4 linked regions of the Homo sapiens genome follow. The protein of the gene in region 3 interacts with the protein of the main gene of each other region in a biochemical or structural test. Each region holds a gene or a part of one and is shown on either strand. Other genes may lie near its edges.

What was found.
Region 1: the proteins of DAPK1 (region 3) and TPD52L1 form a complex in vitro, tested with the Homo sapiens proteins (one large-scale study listed by BioGRID and IntAct).
Region 2: the proteins of DAPK1 (region 3) and RHBDD1 form a complex in vitro, tested with the Homo sapiens proteins (one large-scale study listed by BioGRID and IntAct).
Region 4: the proteins of DAPK1 (region 3) and GASK1B form a complex in vitro, tested with the Homo sapiens proteins (one large-scale study listed by BioGRID and IntAct).

What each region holds. Positions count from the first base shown.
Region 1 is NC_000006.12:125,159,722-125,164,977, reverse strand, and holds part of TPD52L1 (tumor protein D53), read right to left. Parts: intron 1-5,256.
Region 2 is NC_000002.12:226,834,228-226,840,058, forward strand, and holds the start of RHBDD1 (rhomboid-related protein 4), read left to right. Parts: upstream 1-1,826; 5' UTR 1,827-1,860; exon of another isoform or gene 1,861-3,845; 5' UTR 3,846-3,927; intron 3,928-5,181; 5' UTR 5,182-5,400; intron 5,401-5,831. UniProt on the Homo sapiens protein: Intramembrane-cleaving serine protease that cleaves single transmembrane or multi-pass membrane proteins in the hydrophobic plane of the membrane, luminal loops and juxtamembrane regions.
Region 3 is NC_000009.12:87,702,698-87,707,087, forward strand, and holds part of DAPK1 (death-associated protein kinase 1), read left to right. Parts: intron 1-331; coding exon 332-520; intron 521-3,434; coding exon 3,435-4,390. UniProt on the Homo sapiens protein: Calcium/calmodulin-dependent serine/threonine kinase involved in multiple cellular signaling pathways that trigger cell survival, apoptosis, and autophagy.
Region 4 is NC_000004.12:158,165,321-158,170,576, forward strand, and holds part of GASK1B (Golgi-associated kinase 1B), read right to left. Parts: coding exon 5,146-5,256; intron 5,028-5,145; coding exon of another isoform or gene 4,927-5,027; intron 1-4,926.

The sequences.
Region 1 (5,256 bases), on a different chromosome or scaffold from region 3:
CCATGATCAGCTTAACTCAGTAAATTGAAGAAGTGACTGGCTTTACGGTGTTGTTGGGGACATTTCGCAACAGAAGTAATGGTGAACCTCTGCCTGCATGGAGAGCATGCCAGCTGATCAATGACTGAGGCAGATGCCCTCTTTTCTGCAGTTGCTGCTTCAAACCGTGAAAATTCAACACAGAGATGGCTAGAGTCGCTTAAGGACAAATCCATTGATGGCTCATTTTTTTCAACAGTTTTACTAGGTATTTTCTTAAAGTAGTTATTCTGCTAGTATGGTTGGGAGATGGTTAAATGAATAAAACATATTCGTGTAAACAAGTAATTATAATGTTCATGAGGCAATAAAATGCTTTCTTTTTTGGGGTACTCATTGAAATTAGCCCTTTCAGCCAGCATCTAAAGAATACAGATTCTACTTTCTGGAAAGAAGCATGCAGAGCCTGTGACTTTTATTTATTTTAAAGTCCTGAGATGACTGAATATGGATGAACACCAAGTGGAATAACATATCTGAACAGACTTTTGTTTGAGCTGGTGATAAAATTCTGTATTGGTTTAAGAATCACATGTCATGTGATTTTTATAGAATTCTTCATCTTGAAAACAGAACAAAAATAGCAAGCTGTTGATAAATGAGCATCCTCCACCCGCAACTTGACATGTCGCAAGGCTTACTCTTAAAGATCTCCAGTCCCATTCATATTCCCAGACTTAGACCCTGCCCACATATGAAATGAACTGTACAATTAAATTCTGCCCGTTTAAAGCCTCTTTGATCATATAGAAAATAAAGCAAAACCATTATTTAAAACTTTGCACACTGACTGCTTGTGCATACAAAGTACCTATAGAATGGTAATTGAAATCTCAAGATATGAAGTCAAACTTTCTGATTTCAAATCCCAACTCCAACACTTCCAAGTTGTATGAGTTGGAGAATGTTGTGTAACTAGTCTGTCATTCAGTTTCATCATCTGTAAAACCAAAATGTTACCTTCCTTGTGAGTTTGTTATTATTATTGGTTTTTTTCTTTTGTTTTCTTTTTTTTTTTTTTTGAGACAGAGTGTCACTCTGTCACCCAGGCTGGAGTGTAATGACATGATCTCGGCTCACTGCAACTTCTGCCTCCCAAGTTCAAGTGATTCTCCTGCTTCAGCCTCCCAAGTAGCTGGGATTACAGGTGCCCGCCAGCTAATTTTTGTATTTTTAGTAGAGAGGGGGTTTCACGATGTTGATCAGGCTGGTCTTGAGCTCCTGACCTCAGGTGATCCGCCCACCTCAGGCTCCCAAAATGCTGAGATTACAGGTATAAGCCACCACGCCCGGCCTGTTGTACTTATTAAATAACATGTTTGGAGTTTTTTGTTTTTGTTCTTTTTTTTTTTTTTTAGACAGGGTGTCACTTTGTCCAGCCCAGGCTAGAGTGCAATGATGCAATCATAGCTCACTGCAACCTCAAACTCCTGGGCTCAAGCAATCCTCCCACCTCAGCCTCCCAAGTAGCTGGGAATACATGCATGCATCACCATGCCCAATTTACTTCTTTATTTTTTGTAGAAGCAGGGTTTTGCTATGTTGTCTGGGCTGGTCTTGAACTCCTGGGCTCAAGTGATCCTCCCGTCTTGGCCTCCCAAAGTACCAGGAGCCACTGCACCTGACTAAATAACATGCTTTTTAAAAAAGTGCATGCCATGGTATTTGACATTTGTAAAAACACTAAAATGTTATTGCTATTATCACCCTCAATGTGAATTAGCTCTAATTAGCACATTAGCACTCAAAAAATCCCATTGGGATGGAAATATGTCCTCTCATTAGTTCTAGGTGTTAACCCACAGGAACGACTCTCAACTCTTTTTTGCCTATCCTCCTGAAAAGATGACACCATGTCAAGTTCATCTTAGCTTCCCCTTTGCACGTGTGGCACAGCACACATTAAGGCACAGTGCAGTATAGTAGTTAAGCTCATTCTCTGGACTCAATTAAACTTGGAGTTGAATCCTGTCTTCTTCATTTAATTTTTCTGACTCGTAGTTCCCTGTTTATAAAATGAGTTAAAAGTAAAGGTATCTACCTCATGATGTTATTATAAGGTTTTGATAAAATAATGGATGCAAAGTTTTCAGCATATGCTAATAAAAGCAACAGCAAACATTTATATACTACTTACCATGTGCTAGGCCCTGCTTTAAGCACTTTGCTTGTATTAACATGTTAAATCCCCATAACAATCCTATGATATTGGAGCTATTACTATCTTCACTTTGCATATGTAGAAACCAAGATTGAGTGAAATGAATAACTTGTTCATGGTCATATTAATGGTAAGTAACATGTCAGAATTAAAATCCAGGCAGTTTACCTTCATCCTGGGATCTTAATCACTATGCCCTTTTCCCTCCCAATAGTATGTGCTTGTCAAATATTTGCTATTACTGCAGTAATCAATAAGTATTTATTAAAATATTTAATGAATCAATATCTGCTGAAGTATTTGTTTATTATTTACTATAAATTACTAAGTAGCACATCTTCTTATAGGCCACAAAAATGGACTCCTTTGCTTATAAGTTTTTGAAGAAATTCTCAGATTCTGCCTACCCAGATAATTAATAAGGTGTATAACAGGGAAGGCAATTCAAAATATGTTCCCATCTACTACAACAGCTGCCATTTGTATAATTAGATTTTAAAATAATTTAAAATAAAACAGTGGTATATGATTTGTTGCAAATGACTGACTTCACCTAAAATATGCATCATCACCTATTTCAAAACCTTTACTTAAACAGGAAACAAAACTACAGGAGGTAACTTTGAAAATTGTATGAATAGTCTTAATAATACTCTTAAAAATCATAAATCAAAATATATAACAGCTTGCTTCCATAGTTTGAGGTTTATTATTATATTGCCTAAACTTCAATACAAAATTTTAAATATGAAACATAAAATGCAAAATAATTTTTTCCTTGGATAATTTAATAGTTAGAGACATACCTCACTGCACTTCACTTTATTGTACCTCACAGATATTATTTTTACAAATTGAAGGTTTGTGGCAACCCCAGGTTGTGCAAGTCTATTGGTGCCATTTTTCCAACATGGGCTCATGTCATGTCTCTGTGTCACATTTTAGTAACTCTCACAATATTTCAAACTTTTCCATTATTATTAAATCGGTTATGGTGATCTGTGATTGGTGATCTTTGATGTTACCATCAGAATTGTTTTGGAGAACCATGAACTATGCCCATATAAGATGGTGACCTTAACCAGTAAATCCTGTGTGTGTTCTGACTGCTCCACCAGCCACCCATTTCCCTATCTCTCTCCCTGTCCCTGGCCCTCTCCACTCTCTGAGACACAACAATATTGATAGTATGCCAATTAACCCTATAATAGTCTCTAAGTATTCAAGTGAAACATAGAGACACAAATCTCTCACCTTAAGTCAAAAGCTAGAAATGATTAAACTTAGCAAGGAAGGCACAGTGAAAGCCAAGATAGATCAAAAGCAGGCCTCTTGATTCAAGTTGTGAATGTGAAGGAAAAGTTCTTGAAAGAAACGTAGCATGCTATTCCACTGAACACACAAATGATAAGAAAGTGAAATAGACTAATTGCTGATAGGGAGAAAGTTTGAGTGGTCTGGATAGATCAAACCAGCCACAACATTTCTTTAAGTGAAAATCTAATCCAGAGAAGGTCCTAAGTCTCTTCAATTTATGAAGGCTGAGAGAAATGAGAAAGCTGTGCAACAAAAGTTGGAAGCTAGCAGAGATTTGTTCATGAGGTTTAAGGAAAGAAGTCATCTCAGGCCTGGCATGGTGGCTCATGCCTGTAATCCCAGCACTTTGGGAGGCTGAGGCAGGTGGATCACCTTAGGTCAGGAGTTCCAGACCAGCCTGGACAACATGGTGAAACCCCATCTCTACTAAAAACACAAAAATTAGCAGGGCGTGGTGGCACGCACCTGTAATCCCTGCTATTCAGGAAGCGGAGGCAGGAGAATTTGCTTGAACCCAGGAGGTGAAGGTTGCAGTGAGCCAAGATCGTGCCACTGCACTCCAGCCTGGGTGACAGAGCAAGACTCCATCTCAAAAAAAAAAAAAAAAAAAGTCATCTCTGTAACATAAAAGTGCAAGGTGAAGCAGCAAGGGCTGTTGCCAAAGCTGCAGCAAGCTCTCCAGAAGATCTGGCTAAGATAGTTGATGAAAGTGGCTAAACTAAACAACACATTTTCATATAGATGAAACAGCCTTACACTGGAAGAAGATGTCAGCTAGGACTTTTATAGCTAGAGAGGAGGAGTCGATGCTTGGCTTCAAAACTTCAAAGTACAGGCTGACTCTCTTGTTAGGGGCTAATGTAGCTGGTGACTTTAAGTTACATGCTCACTTACTATTCAAAAAGTTCTAAGGCCCTTATGAATTATTCTAACTGTAACCAGATGCAGTGGCTCATGACTGTAATCCCAACACTTTGTGAGGCCAAGGCAGGAGGATTGCTTGAGCCCAGGAGTTCAAGGTGTCAGTGAGCTATGATGATCCCACTGTACTTCAGCCTAGGCAACCGAGCAAGACCTTTCATCTATGAAAATGCAAATACAAATAAATAAATAATTATTCTAAATCTATAGATTTAGAAAATGTGCTCTATAAATAGAATAACAAAGCCTGGGTAACTGTTTACAATATGGTTTCTTGAATATTTTAAGTCCACTATTAAGAACTACTGCTCAGAAAAAAAATATTTCTTTCTGAATATTACTTCTGGTTGATAACACACCTGTATTAGTCCATTCTTATGCTGCTAATAAAGACATACCCGAGACTAGGAAATTTGTAAAGAAAAAGAGGTTTAATGGACTCACAGTTCCGCATGGCTGGGGAGGCCTCACAATCATGATGGAAGGCACATCTCACATGGTGGCAGGCAAGAGGACATACTCAGGGGAACTCCCCTTTATAAAACCATCATGTCTCGTGAGACTTGCTATCATGAGAACAGCATGGGAAAGACCGGCACCTATGATTCAATTACCTCCCAATGGCTCCCTCCCATGACATGTGGGAATTATGGGAGCTACAATTCAAGATGAGATTTGGGTGGGGACACAGCCAAACAATATCATACGTGGTCACCCAAGAGTTCTGATGGAGATGTACAAAGAGATTAACATTGCTCACACGTCTACTAACACAACATCCACTCTTCAGCTTGTGGATCAGGGAGTAATTTTGACTT
Region 2 (5,831 bases), on a different chromosome or scaffold from region 3:
ATATTAATTGAATGGATTCATATGATTGTGGTTCAGAAGGATAAATGAGGACTTCTTCCTTTTGAGAAATTACACATTTCCCCCTCTAGGGAAATACAGAAAATACCTCTATAGGCAATTTACTTTTCCCCGCATTCATTTGACTTTTCATGTCCAGAAATGCAGTTTCTCATTGTCAGTTGAGCTTTTGGAGGAGTATATTGTTTTTCTAGGAAAGAGGTAACTTATGAGTCTTAATGAACACGTACAATTTGCTAAGAATCTTCTTTGTCACTTGAAAGTCATATGTACACCCACACCTATGCATGAGCCACATTTTCACTTAAATTTCAAACTCCAAAATAAATATTTCTATGAAGAGTTTTAATACACAATGGCAAAAGATAAACTCTTCTGGTTTAGGCAGTTTTTGTTTTAGCAGACTATCTAAACACAGCTGCTACAACTTCCAATAAACAAAGAGTAACACTAAACCACCTGTATTCGGATACTCGGATTCCTTCTTGGAAAAAGAGCATCTTTACCCTAGCTATCAGAAAATTCCATACCAAATAGTAAGATTTTTTTTTTTTGAGATAGAGTCATGCTCTGTCGCCCAGGCTGGAGTGCATGGACGCGATCTCACTGCAACCTCTGCCTCCCGGGTTCAAGGATTCCCCTGCCTCAGCCTCCCGAGTAGCCGGGATTACAGGCGCCCGCAACCATGCCTGGCTAATTTTTGTATTTTTAGTAGAGACAGGGTTTCGCCATGTTGGCCAGGCTGGTTTTGAATTCCTGACCTCCGGTGATCCGCCCGCCTTAGCCTCCCAAAGTGCTGGGATTACAGGCGTGGGCCACCGCGCCAGGCCTGTTGTTGTTTTTTAAATAGAGACAAGGTCTCACTATGTTGTCCAGGCTGGTCTCAAACTCCTGAGCTCAAGCGATCCTCCTGCCTCGACCTCCCAAAGTGCGGGGATTACAGGCGTGAGTTACCGCGCCCGGCTGTAAGATAGTTTTTTCATATCCTATTAAATATATATAGCATTGCAACATTTAACTTAGCCTAACTCCTACAGCTAAACATAAAACTTGCTCCCGAGTAGCAAACAATTAAAATGGTATCAAATTATGTATTAATCGAAATTCTATTAACTGAAATATGAAACACCTAAAGCCCTCAAAATGGGCAAACGTTGCGTGGTGCAGTCCCAGACCCAAGCTTCTGGGAGTGAAAGGTGCACCCGCGACCTTGCCTTGCTGGCTGGCTCTGGGACTCTGCGATAAGCCGCCCTCCGGTTGTCTGCGATAGCTCCTGAAGCAGGAGAGTGTCTTTCCCACCCTCCGCCTAACAGGCGGTATCTGACCCTTCCAGGCAGCAGCTCCCCAGCCTCCGGCTGCGCTGGGGCCCGGAAGGACGAAGCTTCCCGGCAGAGAACCTGGGCAGAGGCGTCCGTTGGGTAGGCGGCCGCGACCCGCTCGCTGCTTCTCCCCTAGTCTTCGGGTCCCTTGAACGCAGGTCGCTTGTTTGCCTTACGCGTAGTCAGCGGCCAGTGGCTATTTATGGCAGTAAGGAATATTATCCACATTTCACATGGAGCTTAGAGGACAGGGCGAGGGTCCACACTCTCCTTACTGCGCTCTGCCGCGGTCCTGCCCCGCTGTGCCCTCGCGGCCCCCTTAGAGCCACTGCCGGCGCACGCGGTCTGCAGACAGCAGAGCGCGGGCGCGCACAACTAAGCATGCGCCGCGGCCGAGCCGTCCGCTTTAAGGCCCTCCCCTCCCGCACCCGGCCCCAGGAACCCGGGGCGCCCCGGATCGGGAACGTGCGTGATGACGCACGTGCGCGCGAAGACGTGGGGACGCAGGCGGGTCGTAGAGAGCGTGAGTTTCCGCGTCTGTTTGGTCCGGCTGCTGTCGTTGGTTGTGAGCGGCATCTCTCGCCGTTTCCCCGGGCTGCGGGAGCTGGCGGCCGGGCTGGGGCTGCTGGGCGGAGGTCGGCGCCTCCCGGGGGGCTAGGGCGAGGGAGGCATGGCGGGGCTGGAGGCACAGCCTCCCCGTCCGGGGCAAGTCCGAGAGCGGGGAGGGCGTTTCCTGGGGTAACTCCACCTGGGGTCTTGTCGAAGTTGCCGCATCTCCGCCGGACCGCACGGGAACGACGTGCCCACACTCGGAGGAAGGGGTTGGCGCTGAGCGAGTTTAAAGGGTTCCTTTTGAAAGCAGGAAGTTTGAAGTGACGTTGCATCAGCAACAGAGCATGCAGTTTCAGGTGCTCTCGGGACAGCTTTCAGTTTCTCAGAACAAGTCTAAGCCTCACCGCAGTAATAACTTTTATTAGAGGACAAAAAATCCGCCAAAGTAAACCCTTTCTGTCCAACCCCTAAAAACCTTTGGATAAACGTTTACAAGAAACGGATCACAGCCTTATTTGTTTTTCTAAACTGAGCATAAACTCTTTTGAAGACTCAGCGTTACTGTCAAAATGAATGAGTGCCTGCCTAGTTATGATTCAATTATCGAGGTGTTTGGGTCTCTGCAGTACACTCAGTGACTCCCAGGCTTTTCTTTTTTCTCTTTGAAATTGCTTATTAGAAGGCTTTATCTAATTTCTCACAGTTGTGTGTCTTTTTGAGGTAGTTCTAATAAACTTTAAAGGCTTCTGGTTTGCTGCAGGCCTGCCGTCGCTGTGGAAAGCAAGTATTCTTTCAAAGAAGAATAGAAGTGCATTGGTTTCTAAATAATCCCAGGACGCTAGGATCAGCATCACTTGGGAACTTCTTGGAAATGCACATTTTGGGGTCTTATCCCAAACTTACTGAATCAGAAATATATTTTAACAAGCCTTCCAGTTGATACCAATGCACCTGGACGCTAAAGTTTGAGAATTAATGGCGTAGTGATAACACCCATTGTGGAATCACATATAATGGAATTTGAATTGAAGTAATTCCTAGATGGAAAAACTTGGACATGTTACCTCACAGGGCTGGAATATGAAGATGCAAGAAAAATGTTTAACACAAAACACATAGAAAACCCTCAAAGATGTTATTAAGTAACTTATTAGAACTGCATAAAATAAGTACATAGTTTGTGCTGGAAGGATTCTTCAGCGGGGTAGATATGAGCTGTAGCGCATGGATATTGGGACTGCTGCTTAGAGGGTATTTTGTTTACCTCGGGATTCTCAATTCTGTGTAGTCAAGGTTGTTGGATGCAGGATATTCAGTTAAAAGTTAAAGCAGTGCATACTAATGCTATTGTGGTTGTAGGATTTTTAAGAATAGCATTAGTATTTATGTTGAAGAGTAGTTTTTAATTCTTTGGCCTTCTGATCTCTTCAGCTTTGTTTGGAGACAGTCTCTTTCTGCCACCCAGGCTGGAGTGCAATGGTGCAATCTTGGATCACTGTAACCGCTGCCTCCAGGGTTCAAACGATTCTCCTGCCTCAGCTTCCCAGGTAGCTGGGATTACAGGCGTCTGCCACCACGCCCAGCTAATTTTTGTATTTTTAGTAGAGACGGTTTCACCACGTTTGCCAAGCTGGTCCCGAACTCCTGACCTCAGGTAATCCACCTGCCTCGTCTTCAGTTTAGTTATACCTTCTTTGACCCAGAATTTGGTAAAGACCAGAGGTAAGCACTAGTTTTAGAGTTGAGAATTATTGTAACATAGTGACTTGCAAGCGAAAGCCAAGGCTGAATATGTTTCTGTCCTTATCTTTGTTTCCCATATGTCGTACAACTCCACGGTAGCAAAGATCTCATGTCTACTCTAGATACCTCCATTTTCAGGAAGGATCACAGGAGTGCCCTCAACCTGCTGTGTTTTTTAGATGCAGTATTTTCTTACAACTTTATCTCTTTCAGGGGTCCATTGTAGGGGGAGAAAGAAATATTCAGGATTTAAAGCAGCTGCTCTAAAGGCTACATTCACTGCAATGTTGAGAAGGTCAGTGCCAAACCGTGGCCTACACATGTCGTTTTGATGAGAGCACGCTGCTCCCAAGGCTATACCATGGCTCCTGGATATTGAGAGAGTTTTCAGATAAACATAAGTCACTTTGAATGGATTATTCTGGAAATAATTTCGTTAGCTCTGCCACCAAATTGGCACTGCCCCATCATGAAATGTTTATTTTTCGAAGGCATTAAATATTTTTTTTTGTTCTCCTCATCGGAGAGGCAGATCGCTATCTGTGGTTTTAGGTCAGACAAGCCCTGCTCTGAATCTTGCCTCTGCTACTTAGTGATTGTGTACATTAGACAAATTAACATCCTCCCCACTTGAATTTCTGTAAAGTAGGAGTCATAGGATGTGCTACTTCAGGCCATTGAATTAAATGAAATAACGCATAAAACACGTCCACCTTGTTTTAGGCACAGAGGCTCAGTAAATGTTGTGTGTCGGACAAAGGGAAAAAAGGTATTTGTTGTCTCAAACCTAACTTTATGCCATTCATTTTATAATATTTTTATAAATGAGGTAATTTTATTACCTAACTGCACTGCTTTTCTTTTTAACCATAAAATGCTGAAATGGAGTCAAAGCTTTCATATTATTGTGAATGAGAAAAAACAAACACTTGAAAAAAGTTGAAACTTTAACGTGAAAAAACACCATCTTCAGTTTTATCACTGTAACAGAGCAACTTGTAGAAATTGTTTTGGATGTTTACAGCAAGGTAAACATCCAAAGGTCAGGGGATGAGTAATAAAGTATCTTCTGTTAGTTAATGGGGACAGTCAGCTAGAGAAGGGGACACTGTTACAGGAAATGAGACCTCGTTGAAGGTATGCATCAAAGGATGAGAAAATGCTGTTAGCCCTGAAATTGCTAATATTTTTTTAAAACACGAATTCTTAATAGCAAAGTGAAAAGTTTTACATTACATTTTTTAATAAGGGATAACAAAATCTCTTACATGTATTTCTGTGTGTTTATATTGTATATGAATGTATGAGTGCAGAAAATACTTGACTCACACTAGGTCATAATTTTATTTGTCAGTATATTGGAATATGGGGGTGGGGACCAAGTATAAAAGGAAATTTTCTATATATGTAAAATTAGATACGTACATGTATATGTAAATGTTCTTTAAAAAAACTATTAAAAACGGAAGCGATTCTTTAAAAGGTAGATTTCCTTTTATGTTGCAGTCATAGCCACGTAAGCAATGGACCTCATATTTTTTTTCAACAGGGAGCCTCTTAAACAGAATCTTACCTGTAAAACTCAGGAGCCGAGAAGCTTTAAGAACAGTGAGGTTGAAGGGCACAGGCTCTTGGTCCTTGGCAGCGATATTAGGAGGCGTGCCTAGGGAACCTCGGATTCCGGGGAGCTGGACGTGAAACTCTGTGGTGGAATAGAAATCCTCAGGGCATGAGCTATACCTAAAACGTAATGGTATTAAGAATTCTGGTAAGTGGGATTCACAAACTTGTTCTGAAGACAATTTCCAAGGTTGTCAGCCATGTCACCATATGGATGGCTTCTCATGCAGAGGAGTGAGTGATTATTGAGAAAAAAAAAAACCCACCTGACCCGTATTTTACAAAGTAGGATTCTGTGCACTTTTTTGAGGAATTAGCTTTTTAAAAAATCCCTCCAAGTTGTGACAGCTGTATCGCTATTAAAAGCTATTTGGCATTTTAACTGACTGTTGTTTAGGATTACAAATGACTCGGGGAAAAAGAAACAAGGAGTCAAAGGAAGTGTATTACTTGTGTTTATAGCCCTATCATTTTTTTGTTGTATGGAAGCAACTACTCTATATTTATATAGTAAAGTGTTTTTTTAGAGTTAATTTTTAGTTAATAATGAGCCTTCATAAGAAAAATAATTTCAAATGC
Region 3 (4,390 bases):
AGGCTTAAAAGCAAGTCTAAAAGACAACTGCCCCAGTACTCAACCCAAAAAACACAAACTAGCCAGACACAGTGGTGTGTACTTGTAGTCGGAGCTACTCAGGAGACTGAGACAAGAGGATTACTTGAGCCCAAGGGTTTGAGACCAGCCTGGGCAATAGCGAGACCCAGTCTAAAAAAAGAAAAAAAAACGTCAACAACAACAAAAAAACCCACTCGTTCATCAAATCACCTGCAAGGCGCCTGAATGAAAGGTGTCCTTTCCACTGTGGCTCTGCTCAGGGCACCCACAGCTGCAGGTGAGTTAACCTGTCTGGCCCTGCCCCCTCTAGGTCTGTCCTCCCATGACTCACCTGTGTGAGAAAATCATCTCCACGCTGCCTTCCTGGAGGAAGCTCAATGGACCCAACCAGCTGATGTCGCTGCAGCAGTTTGTGTACGACGTGCAGGACCAGCTGAACCCCCTGGCCAGCGAGGAGGACCTCAGGCGCATTGCTCAGCAGCTCCACAGCACAGGCGAGGTGAGCCCCTGGGAGCCCAGGCAGGGGGCCGTGAGAGGTGCCAGGGACTCAGCCTGTCCCAAATTCCAGCTCTTGGAAGTGGTGTGAGCCTGGGGAAGCAGTGTGGAAATGGTCCAGCTAACCTACAACATTTCCACACGTGTGACAAACACAGCCTCAAGTGACGCTCTGAACTGCAGTTCTCGGCTCACCTTAGGAGCTGTCATTTTGTCTTGTCGTGTTTTGCTTTTATTTCCAGAGTCTGTTAGTTTGGGAGTGCAGTGCCCACTGCCCTGGGTGACTGGGTCTCTCTTCACTCCCCCTGGGCACCAGGAACTTAATCTGCTACTCCTGGCAGCCTTCAGGATGGCTTCTTTGTATCAGCGTGGAGTCATCAGCTCCACACAGATCTCCTGGGTGGGAAAACAGTTGAGAAAAGGCAGTGAGGTGTCCTTGTGGAGGCAATGTCTGGAGATACAAAGACAGAGAACTCTGGTGCACAGATACACAGAGTAATCATAATTAAAGATGCACATTAAAAAACTCTAGCAAGCAATGCCCAGCAGAAATGATTGAGAATGGGAGGCTTTGCTCTGGTTCTGTGACATTGAGCACCAGGGCGCGGTTTGGAAACCCTGTTCTAATGGCATCATATGCCTGTCCCAGGAACGGGGGCAGTGCCTTCGTGTTTCTCCACCATGTGAAATTGGGAGCCTACATGAACTAGTGTGGGCCAAGAAGAGCGGTTCTGAATATTGCAACTAAAAGCAGCTCTGAGATTATTAAAAGCCAGATGCTTACCTCCCCAATCTCAGGTGCCAGGTCTGGCCCTATAGCCAGTTTGTATGAGTCATACAAATTTCTTGAAACTAAACCTGAATCCACAAGCCAGTGACCTTGAAAACTGGAGTCGCCGGGCAGTAATTTCATCAGCCTTTAAACTCCCAGTTAAATGGCCAGAGAATCTGCCAACTCATCCAGGAATACTTTAAAGTGATTGAATCCAAGGAAGAACACAGGTGAAGGACCACATCTTAGATGACAAGATACTGCTGGATGTAAAAAATGTGTCAATTCTAATTCTAAACTCCTTTGGCACAGGAGTCCCTTGCTTTCTAGTAGTAGACCAGCAACTTTCTAGATCATATCATATAGTCTCCTTTATTTGTCATTACATCCCTGCTTGCCCTTGAGAGTTTAGTAAGTAAATGAAGATGTAAAGAAGGAGGGTAATTAGGCAGCAGGAACTACATTGTGTGGCCCGACTTTGATTGGCCCCGGGCCTCCTCCAGACCTGCCTTCCGTATCTAATTTGCAGATCTTCAGAACTCCCCAGTGGCCCTTCTGACTCTGTTTTCTGGCCCAGGGTCCCACACTACGTTTAGCTGACTGTCTTAGCTCCCTGTTCTCCTCCACTATGGGACAGTTTCGTCTTTCCTGAGCCTGAGGCGATGAGCAGTGTTTAGGACCAAACTGCAAATGGTATTCCAGCAAATGCTGTATCAGGAACTAGATCAATATTGGCTCTGCCCTCCAGGAATTTTCAACCTAGGTTCAATTCTGAATAGACTCTTAGACAGGGGGCATCTTTCAGGTTTAAGCCAGACTGTGGGCAGGAAATTACTGTGTGGTCACCGGTGGGGTCAGAGCCTCCAAGTGAGGGAGTCCAGGGCGATGGCCACTCTCCAAGAAAGGAAGCAGAACTCTTCCATAAAGGGAAAGTTCCTTCTGTTTTTTGTCACTTTTTTTTCCTTTCTTTTTATTTTTTTAAGAAATAAACACAACCAAAAAGCTAAAGTCCCCTTGGGCCATCATCTCTGGTCTCACTCCTCTCTCCCCTTCTCGGAGGCCAACTATTATCATGGCAGCATATCCTTTCAGGCCTTTTCTATGTGTGTGTGTTAAACATTCACATAATGGTATAATAATAGAATGTTCTGACTCTTTTTTGAAAATGTTCTCAAGCCTTTAGAGAAGTTGCAAGGATAGTACCATGAACTCTCATATAGGCTACATTTATTTATTTTTTTAATTAATTAATTAATTTTTTTTTTTTTTTTTTTGAGATAGAGTCTCACTCTGTTGCCAAGGCTGGAGTGCAGTGGCACAATCTCGGCTCACTGCAGCCTCCGCCTCCTGGGTTCAAGTGATTCTGCCTCAGCCTACAGACACAAGCCATCACACCCAACTAAATTTTGTATTTTTAGAAGAGACAGGGTTTTACCATGTTGGCCAGGCTGGTCTCAAACTCCTGACCTCAAGTGATCCACCCGCCTCGGCCTCCCAAAGTGCTGGGATTACAGGCATGAGTCACGGTGCCCAGCCTACTACATTTAAGCTGATCAGTTGTTGACATTTTGCTACATTTGCTCGATTCCTTTCCTTTCTATTTATTTACTTATTTATTTTGCAGACATGATGACATTTCTTCCCTAAATAATTTAGCCTATATCTCCTAAGGAGAAGGATATTTTCCCACATAACCCAATATAATTGATGATTCCAGAAACATAACATTAATATAGTACTATGATTGAATATATCATCCTCATACAAGGGTTTGCCACTGGTCCCAATAATTTCTTTTAAAGCTATTTTTATTTATGTACTTATTTTGGGATTCAGAATCCAGTCTAAAATCACTCATTGCATTTGGTTGCCATCTCCCATTTTTTTTTCTTCTTTCATTTCGCTGGCCTTTTTGAAGACTTCAGGGGAGTTGTTTTTCAGAATCTCTATTCTGACATTTTCAAGCTGCTTTTCTCCACTCGGTGTTTGGTTTTTGAGACGCATCCACGTGGAATGGCCTTGGGTCACTCCTTAGAGCATCTGCTCAGCCTCTGTTGCCGGCATCAGGCCCTTTAGTGCTCTAAGTGGCTGGTGCACCTGGCCAGGGCTCTGTCCCTAAGCGTGACTTTCTGTTGTCCCCCCGCAGATCAACATCATGCAAAGTGAAACAGTTCAGGACGTGCTGCTCCTGGACCCCCGCTGGCTCTGCACAAACGTCCTGGGGAAGTTGCTGTCCGTGGAGACCCCACGGGCGCTGCACCACTACCGGGGCCGCTACACCGTGGAGGACATCCAGCGCCTGGTGCCCGACAGCGACGTGGAGGAGCTGCTGCAGATCCTCGATGCCATGGACATCTGCGCCCGGGACCTGAGCAGCGGGACCATGGTGGACGTCCCAGCCCTGATCAAGACAGACAACCTGCACCGCTCCTGGGCTGATGAGGAGGACGAGGTGATGGTGTATGGTGGCGTGCGCATCGTGCCCGTGGAACACCTCACCCCCTTCCCATGTGGCATCTTTCACAAGGTCCAGGTGAACCTGTGCCGGTGGATCCACCAGCAAAGCACAGAGGGCGACGCGGACATCCGCCTGTGGGTGAATGGCTGCAAGCTGGCCAACCGTGGGGCCGAGCTGCTGGTGCTGCTGGTCAACCACGGCCAGGGCATTGAGGTCCAGGTCCGCGGCCTGGAGACGGAGAAGATCAAGTGCTGCCTGCTGCTGGACTCGGTGTGCAGCACCATTGAGAACGTCATGGCCACCACGCTGCCAGGGCTCCTGACCGTGAAGCATTACCTGAGCCCCCAGCAGCTGCGGGAGCACCATGAGCCCGTCATGATCTACCAGCCACGGGACTTCTTCCGGGCACAGACTCTGAAGGAAACCTCACTGACCAACACCATGGGGGGGTACAAGGAAAGCTTCAGCAGCATCATGTGCTTCGGGTGTCACGACGTCTACTCACAGGCCAGCCTCGGCATGGACATCCATGCATCAGACCTGAACCTCCTCACTCGGAGGAAACTGAGTCGCCTGCTGGACCCGCCCGACCCCCTGGGGAAGGACTGGTGCCTTCTCGCCATGAACTTAGGCCTCCCTGACCT
Region 4 (5,256 bases), on a different chromosome or scaffold from region 3:
TACTTTAGGATATTTTCACTTTTTAAATTATCGAAATGTATCAGGACCACACAGTATCTGGTGACTTTTATAATAATTTGAGACTCTTGCAAGGACAATTTGGCAGAAAACAAATATGTTCATCACATTGATACACATGTGATTGTTTATGGTAAACAAGAAAATCTGGTAAGCACTGGCACCTTGGTTTGCATTAAAAAAACTTGTAGCAGTGTTCATAATGATACATCAATACTGCACTTGAGTAAAAATATTGTCAATGTTAGATTATTGAATAGAAAAAAGAAATTAAATAGAAATGTTGGCATAGTGGTAAAATCAGAAACCATCATGCTAAAATTTGCACATTTTTGACATTATCCCATAATTGTAGTAAGTTATATTTGTGAGGTAGTGTGGGTTAACAGAAGCAACGTGAGGAAACTTCAGTGTCAGAGACAGAATTGGGCACAAATTCCAATTTCATTGCTCTCTAGGTAGGTGACGTAGGGCACATTTTATAAGCTCACTGAGCCTCAGGATTCCCCTATTTAAAATAAGAGTAATATCTGCTATGTAAAATTGTTAGGTATGTATAATAGACAACACACATCAAATACAGTGTGTATACTATGTGATACATCACACTAGATTCTTTGTCACAATTGAAAAATACTTCATTATTGCACACAAACATTTTAAGGCCCTTTGATGCTATATTTTAATTCATTTTAAGACTTCCTACACAGAAACATACAGGACGAAAATCTGCTCCAGTGGTAACTGCTGGATCTTATATTGTGGCACACTGCTGGCTCTGCCTAATTAATTACTATCTTGCCCTTCCTCAAGTGCACCCTTCTCATTTTCTAGGATATCTTGGAGCATAACCTGTCAGAAAATAGTCTGTTATAAAGTACAATACCAGTAAGTCCACTAATTTCACACATCTTTTTGTATTTAAGAAGAATCATCTAGAACTCATCAAGTCACACAATCAAGATCTTGTCCCAGATTAAACTGAGCTAGCTGATTGGATCACCCACACCAGTCCTGCCAATTTAGAAAAAACCTAAAGATGAGCTTTATAATTGGAACTCTTTGTCATTTGATTAAATCAACAGAGAGCTTTATCTGAAAGGCTGGGGCAGGCAGATCATTCAAATCACAGCATTTGATTCCTTCTTACACCTCCCTTTTCACATCACATATCCATTTCATAATTACTTTGGGCCTCAACTTCCATATTTGTTAAATGTTTGTAAGAGTCCCCAGGCATAATGACATCTGGGTGCAGCTGGTAGAATTTGTATGAGGATTTAATGAAATAATGCAAGCACAGTACTTAGAATGGTACCTGGTATATATATCTAGGAAAACTCAATAACTCTTAGCCATGGTTAAGGTTTTTTTGTCTCCTTGAGGAAAAAAAGGAGGTTCCCATGGCTATATCTGTGCATCAGTGTATAAGTCATCTGTTTCATTATATTTATATATTTAGTTATTTATAACTAAACTTTCTAGTAGGCTGTGGTGATAGAGAAAGACGATGTACCTTAGGGCCCCCTAAAGGATTTGTTGAGGGACGCAGATTTATGAAAAGAGAAAAGACTGGAAGTTAGAAGACAAAAATTTTTGCTGGACAACTAACTCATCACATGACCTTGAGCAGTCTTCTTGCCTTTCTTTCATCTCTAAAATGAGGTTTAAAAAGTCTACTGCATAGGATTCTCAGAAAAATTAACTAAGACAACTTAAATATCTAAATTCAACTTGCAACACAGACTAACCACTTTCTTGGTGCCAGATATAAATTTATTTTTATAAACATTAATCAAAAGTCAGAACAGAAACAACATTTAGGGTAGATTACTTACAGGCTTTGCTGGCTTCTCACTCTCTCAAATATTAAAAGATCTACTCCCAGACCAAGCCAGGTCATCAGAGAAATATATACCTAAATTAAATCCTATTGTTCCTCCTGCAGAAAACTCATTATCGAATTACACTAGAGTGTGATGCCAACACACCACACTGATAGTTCTCACAAGAATAAGCCCTGTAAACCTTTCATTTGCATTGTAAGGAGGCTACCAAAAACATTTTTTATTACCTCCACAATGAATTCCTTATGAGATCCTCCAGGAGAAAGCCCAGCCTGGACTTAAGACTAAAAATGTTATTACACGTCCTAAGTATTAGAAGCTGGTGGCTTCCAGTATAGTTTTACTGTTTAGAGTCCAAGGAACAAGCAATGAACGCATTCCTTCATTCATTCAAAATATTTATTGAGCATCTACTATGGGCCAGACTCTCTGCTAAGATCCAGAAATGCAATTCTAAAGAAAACAGGAAGTATCTTTGCCTTCACTGACCTAGAGAGTAGTGGGAAGGAACAGATGATTAAATAAATGATTATAATACAAATATGTATTATATAATATAATGATATAGAGCAAGCTGAAAAAGATGCTGGGTAACTAGGTAAGATCTGTTGCCTCCCTGGGTGGGCTGCAAGGCTCAAATAAAGTCAAACTCTGACCAACAGAATAGCAGTGCCCTAGAAGAAAGCTACACGCTTCCGTGGAAATCAGGGAAGAAAGACACAGTGAGAAAAAGACTAGAAATAGGTGGATGGGTAGAGATACTGAGAACCTAATGCTGTCTATACCATGACCAGAAGTGGTCTATTTATGTACTTTGCAACACTGTAACAGTCTGCTTGAGTAGAATTACATTGTGTAGAGTATTCATAACTATATGAAATCATTTCATGAGCCCCTGGAGAAACTGGCCTGACTTTGTGACTCTAAATGACTAAGTAGAAGAAGGTATCAAAGACAGAATGTTGTTTGAGATATAATCTTAGGGATTTTATTTATTAAATTGAGTCATATTAGTATAGCTTTATTAGTTTATTTCCATCACCACTACCATATGAAAGGAGAGAGAAATATCCAGGCTATATTGAGATCATAAACCCCGCCTTCAAATGAATTTTTGTTCTCAAAGATGCTGGAAATTCAGAGCAAAGAATTAAATATCTAAGAGGGATTGGGATTACAAAAGTTTAATTGAGCAGTTTTAGTCATAGTCCTATCACGTAACGAAGTAACACATGAGACTTGGAGATTATGTGAGGAATTCAATGAACTTGGTACCTCATGTGCTTGGTACAATAATAATAATAATAACCAATATTTATTGAAGGTTTATCTTGTGGCAAATACTGGTTCTAAGTGTTTTCCCTGTATTAACTAACAACAATCTCATATGGTAGGCAGTATTGTCATTTTACAGCTGAGGAAACTGAGGCATAAAGAGACATGGCAACATTTCCAAGTCGTATGATTGGTAAGTTCAAACCTAGTCAGTCCAACTCCACGGCCCAGGCTCTTAGCCACTACTGCATTCTCCCAATACAGTAGTCTAAGAGCGTCTAAGGGAAGCTCAAAGGACATATCAGAGAACTCTGCCTCAGGATATACACAGGAGTTCATCTTCTCCTCTCTGGGGCCTTTATGACATGAAAATGAATGGGATTTCAGCATAACAAGGGGGATCCTGTGCTCTACTCTGCTCAGAACAGTCAGTGTGGGCCTGTTGTCCCAATGCCCACCAGCATCTCCTTTCACGCCACACGGTTCCAGTTTGGATAATAAGTTACATATTCACCTAAGTCCAGTGGCTAAGAAGTTATGTTCTGAAGTTTGCTGGGTCTATAGTCAAAACCCAGCTTAGCCACCTACTAGCTGTGGGAGTTGAGGCCAATTACTTTGTCTCAATAAGCCTCAATTTTCTCATCTACTAAATGGAAATAATAATAGTCCCCACTTCATAGCATTGTTATGAAAATTCTAGGAGCCAACACATATGAATCAATTTGTATAATCCTTAGCAAATTGTGGGCACCCAATAAAAATTCATTTTTATCAACATTAGATTAAATGTTTGAGAAGGTTTCTTACATTGGCATAACTGTGGTGGACTGCTTTATAAACTTGAGACATCAAAGCATACCTGTGAATCTGGAGCACTTAGACAAGAACCACCATCAGTAGGGAATGTCCAATTTTTCTAAGTAAATCACTGGTACTTCCAGGGGTATCCATTTTAAAATGAAATTATAATGCTAAAGCCATTGGAAATGCAGTTGGGTCTCAGCCACTCCCAGGGATTTTAATCCATTCCATTCTAGGCTCCCTGGGAACCTCACTGAAATGCTAAATTTCATGGTAACATGGAGAAAGTTAAGTATCCTTTCAGCTTATAATCTCTTTGGGGTACATTTTAGCCTCTTGGGCCAATCTGGATTCAAAGTTGTAACTTCTGGCATCATTCTGCATTCAAACATAAGCCACTGACTCACTGTACTTTGTATTCGAGCCCTGGAATAGCTTTAATATTCAGAGAATATCCTTTATATGGCATGGGCATGACCGCAGACCAGTCCTTTTGCTGGCAACTGCAGTAACTGGCTACATGTGTTAGAACCTGCCAAAATGTTTGTCACCCAAGACGGGAGAATCTTGAAAGACAGACTCAATAGATCATAGTCAGGGGCTTGATAAAACCACACAGCTAGTTAGTATACATACTGAACAAATCACCAATTTTTGCTCATTCTTTTTATTTGTTAAATAAAGAGGTTAAATCCATTGAAAAAAAAAGGGGGGGTTAAACCTAACATGGTCTGGCTCTGCGCGGCTTAAGAAGATTCCATCTGCTCAAGAACGATAACCCGCTTCCCCCTTACTTTTAAAAACTTCTACTTCCTCCCATAGTAACCTATTTAATAGTATGCCTGACTGTCAGCAAGTTCTTTGCCTCCAGCCTAGCTTCCTCTCCTCATCATGCAAATTGCCGTTGGCTTTAATTAGATTTAATAAGCCACTGGGAAGTGAAGCGAGGGAAATGGAGAGCAAAGATTATACAGTATGGGCTTACTCTTGCATGTCCAATACAGCATTTCCCTGGAACTCTCATATCCTCCCAGGCTGGGAAAATAAAGAATGCCAAGCGCATGGAAAGACACGCTGCTGCTGCTGCTGTCCAAATGTGAACCGTGGGTGGAGAAAAATCATTTAGAAAAAGAGAGTGAGGGAAAAAAGAAAATGAACCAGAATCCCCAACAGCTGCAAATAACGAAGCATGTGAATCTGTTACCTTGGATGAACTCTGCTTTCCTGCTCACAGACGGCAGGGTCCTGTTGAGCCCCAGGATCCTGTCTAGGTGGAAGGCAAACACCTCACTCATGTCCAAGGGCTGCTTGAGAA